Linked DNA regions of Homo sapiens: region 1 is linked to region 2. Evidence: fine-mapped expression QTL. Tissue or cell type: unexposed skin. Region 2 holds a variant in brackets; the other region holds the start of a gene. All regions are shown on one strand. Distances are from middle to middle. Region 1 holds the start of STRBP (spermatid perinuclear RNA binding protein). Region 2 has its middle 12 kb from the start of CRB2.

Region 1 (4,385 bases), 76 kb after region 2:
AGTAGAGATGGGGTTTTGCCCCATTGGCCAGGCTGGTCTTGAACTCCTGACCTCAGGTGATCCACACGCCTCGGCCTCCCAAAAGTGCTAGGATTACCAGCGTGAGCCACTGCGTCTGGCCTAACTTTTTACTTTCTTTCCTTTTATATAATTTGCATGCTTTTGTCTCAGTGTTTGGAGTTACAAACCCAATAAAGATATTGAAACAAGAAATACTATTGAATCCTTAATGCCATGCTGTTCTTCTATTTTAAAAAAATTAAAAATGTAACCAAGTGCTGGACACCGTGCTGAGTGCCTTAGATATACGGTTGCAATGAATCCTTCTAACAACCCTACAATATGCAATACTATTAGTCTCACTTGGCAGATGAGTAAACTTAGACTAGAGAGATTGATTTTCCAAGATCACACAGCTAGTGTGCAGTGAATCTGGATCTTTACAGTGTGGCGCCTCTTCTCCCTCTGATACTTATGGGCATCCTACAAAACCCAGCTTTAATGATCTCATGTCATGTGCACGTGTAGTCTTCCCTAACACACTTAGGCAGGAAGATGACCCTGTCCTCAAGGGACTGAGAGACCAGGGAGGAGACAGACAGCTAAACAATTACAATCTAGTGCCATGAGAATACATATAGCTTAACAGGACTATGTTCAAGCCGAGGGAGCTTAGACCATGTGTCTGAGGCAGCCAAGGATCTCCAGAGAATATACTCTGAGCTGATTGATAAGGATACCCAGGATTTTTTTCAGGAGGGTCAAGGAAGGTGTGAGTGGTCAGAGGTGGGGAGAGGGTTTAGAAAGGGATTTGCGGCCTGGCATCTGTCTCAGGAGACTCAGGCTCCTACACACCTGGGCATACTCTGGAAACAACAGTACTGTAGTTCTGTGTGGCTGGAGGGTCACATTGGCCTGAAGGAGGGGCAAAGGGAAGGGCGTGCACCTTGAAGCTTAAGGCCAGATCACCAAGGCCTTTTCAGTTGAAATTGGGTTTTTTACACTTTATTCTGTGAATGAAACAGAGCTGTTAAAATATTTGAGCCTGGTGTGTTAGAAAGATGAAAAGGGGCCCCAAGGGGGCTGTTGTGGGGAGTCCCTCCTCAACCCCTGGGCTGTTCAAGGTCCTCTGTCTTGGCACTGAGTGGTCAGGTCGTTTCTGCTCCAGGCTGGGAATTGTCTTAGGGCAAAGACATTGTCTCATTTGCCAGTGCATCCCTGCAGCCTGCAAACCCCCCGGTATACAGCAGGGACTGTATACTGGCAAGCAGAATGCTGGGCACCAAGAACTTGAGGCCAGGGACTGTAGAATAGAAAGCGAACCTTTAATTCTTCCCCAGCGCCGCCCCTGGCACAGAGCTGGTAGGTGTTCAGCCAAAGTCTGACCCAACCATAAGGAGGTCAGAGAGGTCCTGGGCCCAAACTCAATCCCAGCGAGGTTCATTATAGGCAGGTGAAGGAGAGGTGATTGTAGCAGCTTCTGTTCAGCGACTGCTGTGTGCCAGGATTCACACCTATTGTCTTATGCCATCTCCCCAACAGCTCCTAAATTGGAATTATTGTCCCAGTTTTCCTGATGAGGAAACTGAGGCTCAGAACGGTTCTTGGTAACTTGGCCAAGGTCACACAGCCAGCAAGTAGGTGGGCGGTGGCACAAGTCAAAGCCTACTGGCCTGCCCCTCTACCTCGGGAGGCAGTGCGACGCCTACTCCATTTGTGTGGCTGCTGGGGTTGGGGGGCATCCCGCACTGGGGTGCGGGGCCCGGGGAAGGCGGCTAGCCGCCGCGGCTCGGCGCAGCTCCCAGGTTCGGAAGTTACGAAGTTTCCGTGCATTTCGCTAGCCTCCCAGCGCAGCTCGTCTCCGCTCCGCCGCAGTTACGCCGCTAGCGCAGCGGGGCTCAGGTGCTGCAGCGAGCGGGGGCCTGGGGCCGGGAGGAAGGCGGGGACGCAGTTTACGTAAGCGTCCGCTGGCAGGTGCATAAGGCCGCCGGCGGCGAGTGCTCCCTGCGCGCTCCCAGGTGCGCACTTGGCGCAGGCGGCGGCACAGCAAGGCGGCGGCGGGCGCTGGCCGGCGCTCTCAGGTGCGGCAGGACGCGCGTGGAGGGGGCGCGCGGCGAACGAGGGGGCGGGCTTTCCGTTCCCCAGCAGCCGCGGGGCCCGCCCCCTGGCCTGGCCAATGGGCGCGCTCGACGGTGTCACGTGCTCGCTGCCGCCGCTGCCGCCGCCGAAGCGGAGACCGGAGCCGCGAGCGCCACCAGGGCAGCAGCCGCCGCAGCCGCCGCCGCTGGGCAGAGGAGCCGGAGACGCGAGCGGGCGAGGTGGCGGCGGCGGCGGAGCGGGAGCGGGTACCGGGCGCGGGCAGAGCGCGGCGGCGCGGGTAGGCTCCGGCGGCGGGGCGGGCGCCTGCGCGGCGGGCCGTCCCGGGCGGGCGGCGGTTAAGGCGGCGGTTGAGGCGGTTGGCGGAGCCGGCCCGGGCCCCGCATTGTTTGTTGTGCGTCCTTAGCAGCGGCGGCGGCGGTGGCGGCCGAGGCGGAGAGCAGGGAGCAATCCCGGCCCCGCGGCTCCGGCATTGTGGCCGCCGCCGCCGCCGCTGCGGTGCCCCGGCCGCTTCGGGCAAGGGCAGCGGGCAGCCTTCCTCACCTTCGCGGGGACGGGGTCCCGGCCGATCAGGGGAGGGCGTGGGCAGGGTTGGGGGACGCGGTGCCGGGAGGTCTTCCGGGACGGAGGGCTCGGGGCTCGGGGCAGGTGTTGGAGGACATTGGGGGCAGGAGCTGGGGAGAGGCTTCGGGGGGCAGGCGGAAGGTGTGGGCAGATTTGGGGGTAAATAGGGGTGCAGAGGGATCCGGCCCAATGGAGGAGGAGAGCCTTCAGGCAGGTTTGGGGGGCCCCCTGGGCCAGGCGAGTGCGAGATGGAGGACATTCCGTCCGGTGGGGGGGGGCACTATATTGTGGGGTTCAAGAGGGAATGAGGGGGCTTTTGGGGAGGGCAGGGACGAGTGGGGTGGGAATGGAGGGAGAAGACTGGGGACTCGAGCAGGACTGGAAGGAGCGCTGCGTGCCAGGGGCAGGGAGTGGGGCGGGTATTAGGAAGGCCACCGGGACGCCCGTGAAGGGGAACGATGGAGGAGGGGGTCGGGGCAGGGGGAAGTGAGGGCAGGCAGGGAGCGCCTGAAAGGGAGGGAGGGGAGCAGGGTGCCTAGGCTTCTGGGGTGATAGGGAAATGAAGGGTAGGCCCAGGGGCTCCAGGAGACCTGCGAGGGGTGTGAGGGAGTGTGTGGCCAGGTGTATAGGGGAGCCTGCAGGGAGGCGGGAGGGGGTTGACATGTAAGGATAAAAAGGCAGGTATCTGGTGCTCAGGGAAGAGGAGTATGGGGTGGAAGGGGGAAGTTCATTGGGGCAGAGACTTAGTTTGAGGGCTTGCAGAGAGAGGTGGGGACAGTAGGAGAAGGGTGATGGGGATGGAGAGCAGGAGGTGTGTGGGGCATTTAAAGGATAGCGGGAGAAGTGCGTGAAATGGAGGGTGTTTATGCAGGAAGTATGGAAGAAGGTGGGATCAGCAAGAGAGGGAATTTTGAGGTAGGACGGAGGGTGAGGGGTTCTTGGCAAGTGTTGGAGGACGTTAGGGGCAGGAGCTGGGGGAGAGGGACAGGTGTGGGGTGGCGTGGAGTGTGTGAGGTGGAGGGCAAAAGGGGGTGGGGAAAGGGAAGTGTTCTTGGAGTGGCAGGTAAAGTGTGGGGACAAATGGAAGGAAAGATTTCTGAGGCGGGAAGTGTGGAGCGGTTGGGGAGGAGGAAGGTGGAGGGGAGGGTGAGAACGAAATCAGTAGAGGGGGACAACGGGATAGACTGGAGGGGAAGGTGGACAGGTCTGGAGTACAGTAGGTGGAGGGAGGGAAGCACAGGTTTGGGGCACTGAATTTTGTGCTGTAGGGAGAAGGGAGGTAGGGAGAAAGAAGGAAGGTAGACAGGCTATTTTGGGGTAGAGGATGTAGAAGAATGCTTAATACCTATAGTGGAGTAAGGGAAGGGCAAGGCAGAGGTGTATGTGGACATGTCTGTAACTAGAAAGGCATAGGTGATGGATTGGAGTGGTGGTGGTGGTGGTGGGGGAAATAGGATGCCCAGGTTTAGGGCAGGAAATGACTGCTTAAGTTGGAGAGAGCTAGGAACACAGGTTGCTTAAGAGAGTATGGAAGATCCAAGGAGTGGAAGTATGGGGAGAGATTGGAACACTTTGAGTTTGAGAGATGAAAGGGGCCAAGATTTTTAGGTCACTGAGAGTCTAAGGAAGATCAGGCAGAGTGCAGAAGTTGGAAAAATAACTAAATGGAGAGGATTAAATTCCATACTGAGAGAAACTGGAGATTGAGGGGTGGGGGGACCTGG
Region 2 (4,385 bases):
TACCCAGATACAGAACCCTCACAGAACACACCCCCCACACAAATGCAAATATGTGCAGAGATACACAACACACCTACAAGATTCAAAAATATCCTCAGTACACATCTACAAACACACCAGTCCCACATCCACAGACACACAGACCCCTATGCAATCATAAAAGCCCAAACACCTGTGTACCCAGCGCACTGCACAGCCCGGGAGGCCCGCCAGCAGCCGGTGGACAGGGCAGAGCTGCCGTGTCCCTGTGCTCACATCCAGGGACAGGCCTGGAGACCCCGCCACCCTCTGCAAGGGTCTGGCAAAGTGCCACCTCCTGTGGGAGGCCAAGGACACCTGGCCCCTCAGAAGTGCCTGGGTCGATTTCACAGCCACGTGCCAGGCAGCCTGGCTCAGGGGCCACACTGACCTCACCCTGGACAGGAGCGTGTGAGCATGTGTTCCAGTGTATGTTTTACTGGGTGGGGGGGTGTGTGGGGAGCTATGGCAGGAGCAGCATAAAGATGACAAGAGACAGTTTACCTACTATATCAGCCTGCTTACCTCCCTCCCTTGCTCCCTCCTTCCCTTCCTGCCTCTCTCCCTCTCTTCCTTCCTTCCTCTGCTATTCAATAAGGACCTTTAGTGAATCCGGCAAAACCAAGACACAGCCTCTGCCTTCCAGGAGTGCAGTCTTGGCGTAAGCAGACATGCCTGGGGTTGAGCTGTTATAAGACACATTGTGATCATTGCTAGGAGGCCTCAGGGAGGCCTGGCTTTCATCTGGGGCTGTGGGACATTGAACGATTCACGTCCTTCTCTGAGCCTCAGCTTCCTCAGCTGAGAGAGACCACATGCTCCCTGACCACCTGTCGGGTTTGTTAATAGAATCAAATGTCATGATGAAAGTGGCAATGCTTAGCGGGGACAGGGACATTTTTCTTAAAATAAGAGCCAGGTCTGTGCTAGGCTGTGCATCAGATCTGTGATATGGGAATGTGGTTAACTGCATGGGCCCTGCAGTCAGGGAGTCTTGGCTGGGTTCAGATCCCTGCTTTGCCAGGACTAGCTGTCTGAGCTCCAGCTTGAGCTTCTATTTTCTCATCTCTAATATAGATGCAATAATAATAATATCCAATTTACATGAGTGCTATGAGATAACGCATGTTAAGCTCTTAGAACAGGGCCTGCCGGCCAGGCGCCATGGCTCACGCCTGTAATCCCAGCACTTTGGGAGCCCGAGGCGGGTGGATCACGAGGTCAGGAGATCGAGATCATCCTGGCTAACACGGTCTCTACTAAAAATACAAAAAATTAGCCAGGCGTGGTGGCGGGTGCCTGTAGTCCCAGCTACTCGGAAGGCTGAGGCAACAGCGTGAACCCTGGAGGCAGAGTTTGCAGTGAGCCGAGATTACACCACCGCACTCCAGCCTTGGCGTCAGAGCGAGACTCCGTCTCAAAAAAAAAAAAAAAAAAGAACTGGGCCTGTCACAAAGTACATGCTCAATTAAGCTCCTATTCTATATAGGCTGTCATGTATTCATACAACAAACACTGAGCACTTACTATGAACCAGGCATGATTCTAAGTGCTCTCCAAATTCTAACTCATTCAATCCTTTTAACAACTCTATTATTATCCCCTTTTTGCAACAAAGAAAACTGAGGCACAGAGAGGTCCAGTCACTTATTCAAGGTCACACAGCTGGTAGAAGGCAGACCTGGACTGAAACCCAGGTCTGTGGGACTCTCTGAATCTATCTACAAGGTATGTACTTCCCTTTTATAGTTCAAAATCCTCCTCCCCTCTCCCCAGCAGCAGCCCCTGTTAAATAAATCATCCAGTAACGGTTTCTAATTCCCAGACTTGGTTGCAAATGAATTATTCACATGGTAAGGCCTGCAAACTGCCGGCTGGGCCTCATTACCCAAGAAAGGCTGCCCGCCCGCAAGATGC[T/C]GCTCCCTCCCCTGGGCATGGGTCCTGGCAGGTTGGCCAGAGGTGGCCAGAGTTGGTGGGCCCCGCTCCAGTGCCCTGCTCCGGGAACTGGGAAGAGCAGCTCTTTTCCTTTCCCCCGGCCCTTGCTTTCTAATAAGCTCACAGTCTGATGTGGCTGAGAGACCATAAGCTCTGGACTCAGCCAGTCCTGGGTTCCAATCCTGGCTCTGCCCTTAGCAGCTGTGTGACCTTAGGCAGGTGGCCAGCCCTCTCTGAACCTCTGGGGGAGGCTGAGCAGCTGGCCCACACAATGCGGCACAGGGCACCACTTCACACTTCCTCTTCTTCCTCCATTTGCAGGCTGAGGCTTGTGCTGCCCCTCCAGGCCCTGTGCTAGATGCTGGGGACAAAGATCCTGTCCTGTGGGGACATCCAGCGTCTGACTGAAACACTGGTGTGAGCCTGAGCTTTGGGGTGGGTTGTGGGGACTACTCTGTGCTCCAGAGCCCCTCTTCAGGGCCAAGCTGCTGGGACTGCTGTTACCTCACTGGGTTATACCCCATGCCAGGGACAGCCTGTGGCCAGTGCCTGACCCATGTGTGGCTGCAGAGGCACGGCTCCTTCTCAACTAGGAAACCCTAGGGGATCGTCAGCTCCAGGGGTCCTCGTAGGGACCTCAGTTGCAACCTCACGGTGGGTCAGTCTCCTTCTGCCCAGTCAGCCTTGCTCCTTCCTTCCAGGTGGATCTCCCAAGGACATGCCCCAAGAAACACACGTGCAGTCCAGAATCTGTTTCCAGGAACGCAGGCTGAAATACTTGTCACAGACAATCCTGGCATTGAATGAGACCCAACCCAGGTCATCCGCAGACTCATCGTTCCCAGGCAGACTGAACCTCAATACTGCTTACAGACGGAGCCTAGTTTCCACCCCAGTCTAAGCTCAGATCCTAGTCCCAGACTGAGCCCAGGCCTCCCATGGAAAGCAGAGGGCCATTTGAGACAAAATGAAGAGAGGCTGCGTGGGAGGTAGAAGACTGGGGTGTGGCTTACACTGAGAACTGAGCCAGACTCACCCGGTCAGCCAGGAAGTCAGAGTCACGGAATCTCAATTCAGAGAGGTATTTCTAAAAAACACCTAAATGGGTTCCTCTTTATGGAAGAACCAAAATCTACCACGACTGACAAGAAAAATCCTAATAGCTGTGGGCACCAAGCCATGGGATCTACTTCCAGGTCCCTCTGCTTCCTCGGGACAACCCGTAGAGTTCTATTATCACCCATTTCATTTTATTTCAGTGCTTTATTATTGTGTTATATTGTATTTATTTTGAGACAGGGTCTTGCTCTGTCACCCAGGCTGGAGTGCAGTGGTGCAATCACAGCTCACTGCAACTTCTAACTCCCAGGCTCAAGCGACCCTCCTGCCTCAGCCTCCCAAGTATCTGGGACCACAGGCATGTGCCACCACACATCATCAGTTTTATTATTTTTTGTAGAGACACAGTCTCCCTCTGTGGCCCAGGCTGTTCTCAAACTCCTGGGCTCAAGCGATCCTCCCACCTTGGCCTCCCAGAGTGCTAGGATTACAGGCATAAGCCACCACACTCATCCTATATTATGGTGCCTTTTATAGACAAAGTGGCCAAGGCTCAGAGACATGCATGACTTGGCCTCTGGCCCACACTGTATTTCTATAGGATCTAGGCTCAATCAGGGGCTCATCTCCCAAAGGGAGACTCATAAGGAGCATCCAGGCCCCTCTGTCACCTGAACTAGCTAGTCACCAAGTTCCTAAGTCTTGCCCAGGGCAGCAGGGGTGTCAGGGAAGGGTAGTGAGTGGCACATGAATCTGTGCAACTGATCCAGCCCCAAATTCTGGCAGGCCATCATTCCCTTCTGGGTGTCCCAGTTCCTATCATTGGATGCTCAGAGTCATCTCCATAAGGTAGGCACTATTATGCAGACATGGCACAGGTAAGGAAACCGAGTCCCCCAAAAGGGGATCCCACTTGTCTGGGCTCACAGAGCTGAAACTCACCTCTGGAATTTCTGATCCTTGGTCTTCCAGCCTCTGCCGTTCTATATGGAAGAACAAAGGCCACTTCCCCGTGTGCTCCACACCACGGATTCTTCATGCATCTGTCCATCCACCCACACAGCATCTCTGTGACAAGCATCTTCTATGCACCAGGTCTGGGCTGGGTGCTGGGGACTGAGTGGGGAACCAGAGGCAGAGCCTGACCTTGCGGAGTGTTCAGGCTGGCAGGGGAGCCACACAGTCAATAAACGTGCTCACAAGAAATGAATGCATCTCCATGTGCTAAGCACTGGGGAGAAGCAGCCTGGGAGATCATGAGTGGTGTGACAAGGACTGTCTCTCTTGGGAGTGTTCTCTGGATTCCAGGGAACTCGTGGGCAGAAAATCTGCAGAGATGGACCATGTAGGCTTGGCCTCGGGGGACAGAGGCT

What was found.
Region 1: it holds the start of STRBP, and the variant in region 2 is fine-mapped to the expression of STRBP in unexposed skin (GTEx, PIP 0.94).

Annotation. Positions count from the first base shown.
Region 1 is chr9:123,266,428-123,270,812 of GRCh38, reverse strand. STRBP (spermatid perinuclear RNA binding protein) reads left to right here and starts at 2,227. Exons shown (of 19, transcript NM_018387.5): 1 at 2,227-2,377. RefSeq lists silencers at 1,802-2,281, 2,452-2,501 and an enhancer at 1,901-2,401.
Region 2 is chr9:123,342,167-123,346,551 of GRCh38, reverse strand. No RefSeq gene overlaps it. Among named protein-coding and RNA genes, the nearest start is that of CRB2, 12 kb to the left of the region's middle. RefSeq lists an enhancer at 2,801-2,860. The variant T/C (reference allele first, on the strand shown) is at 1,936.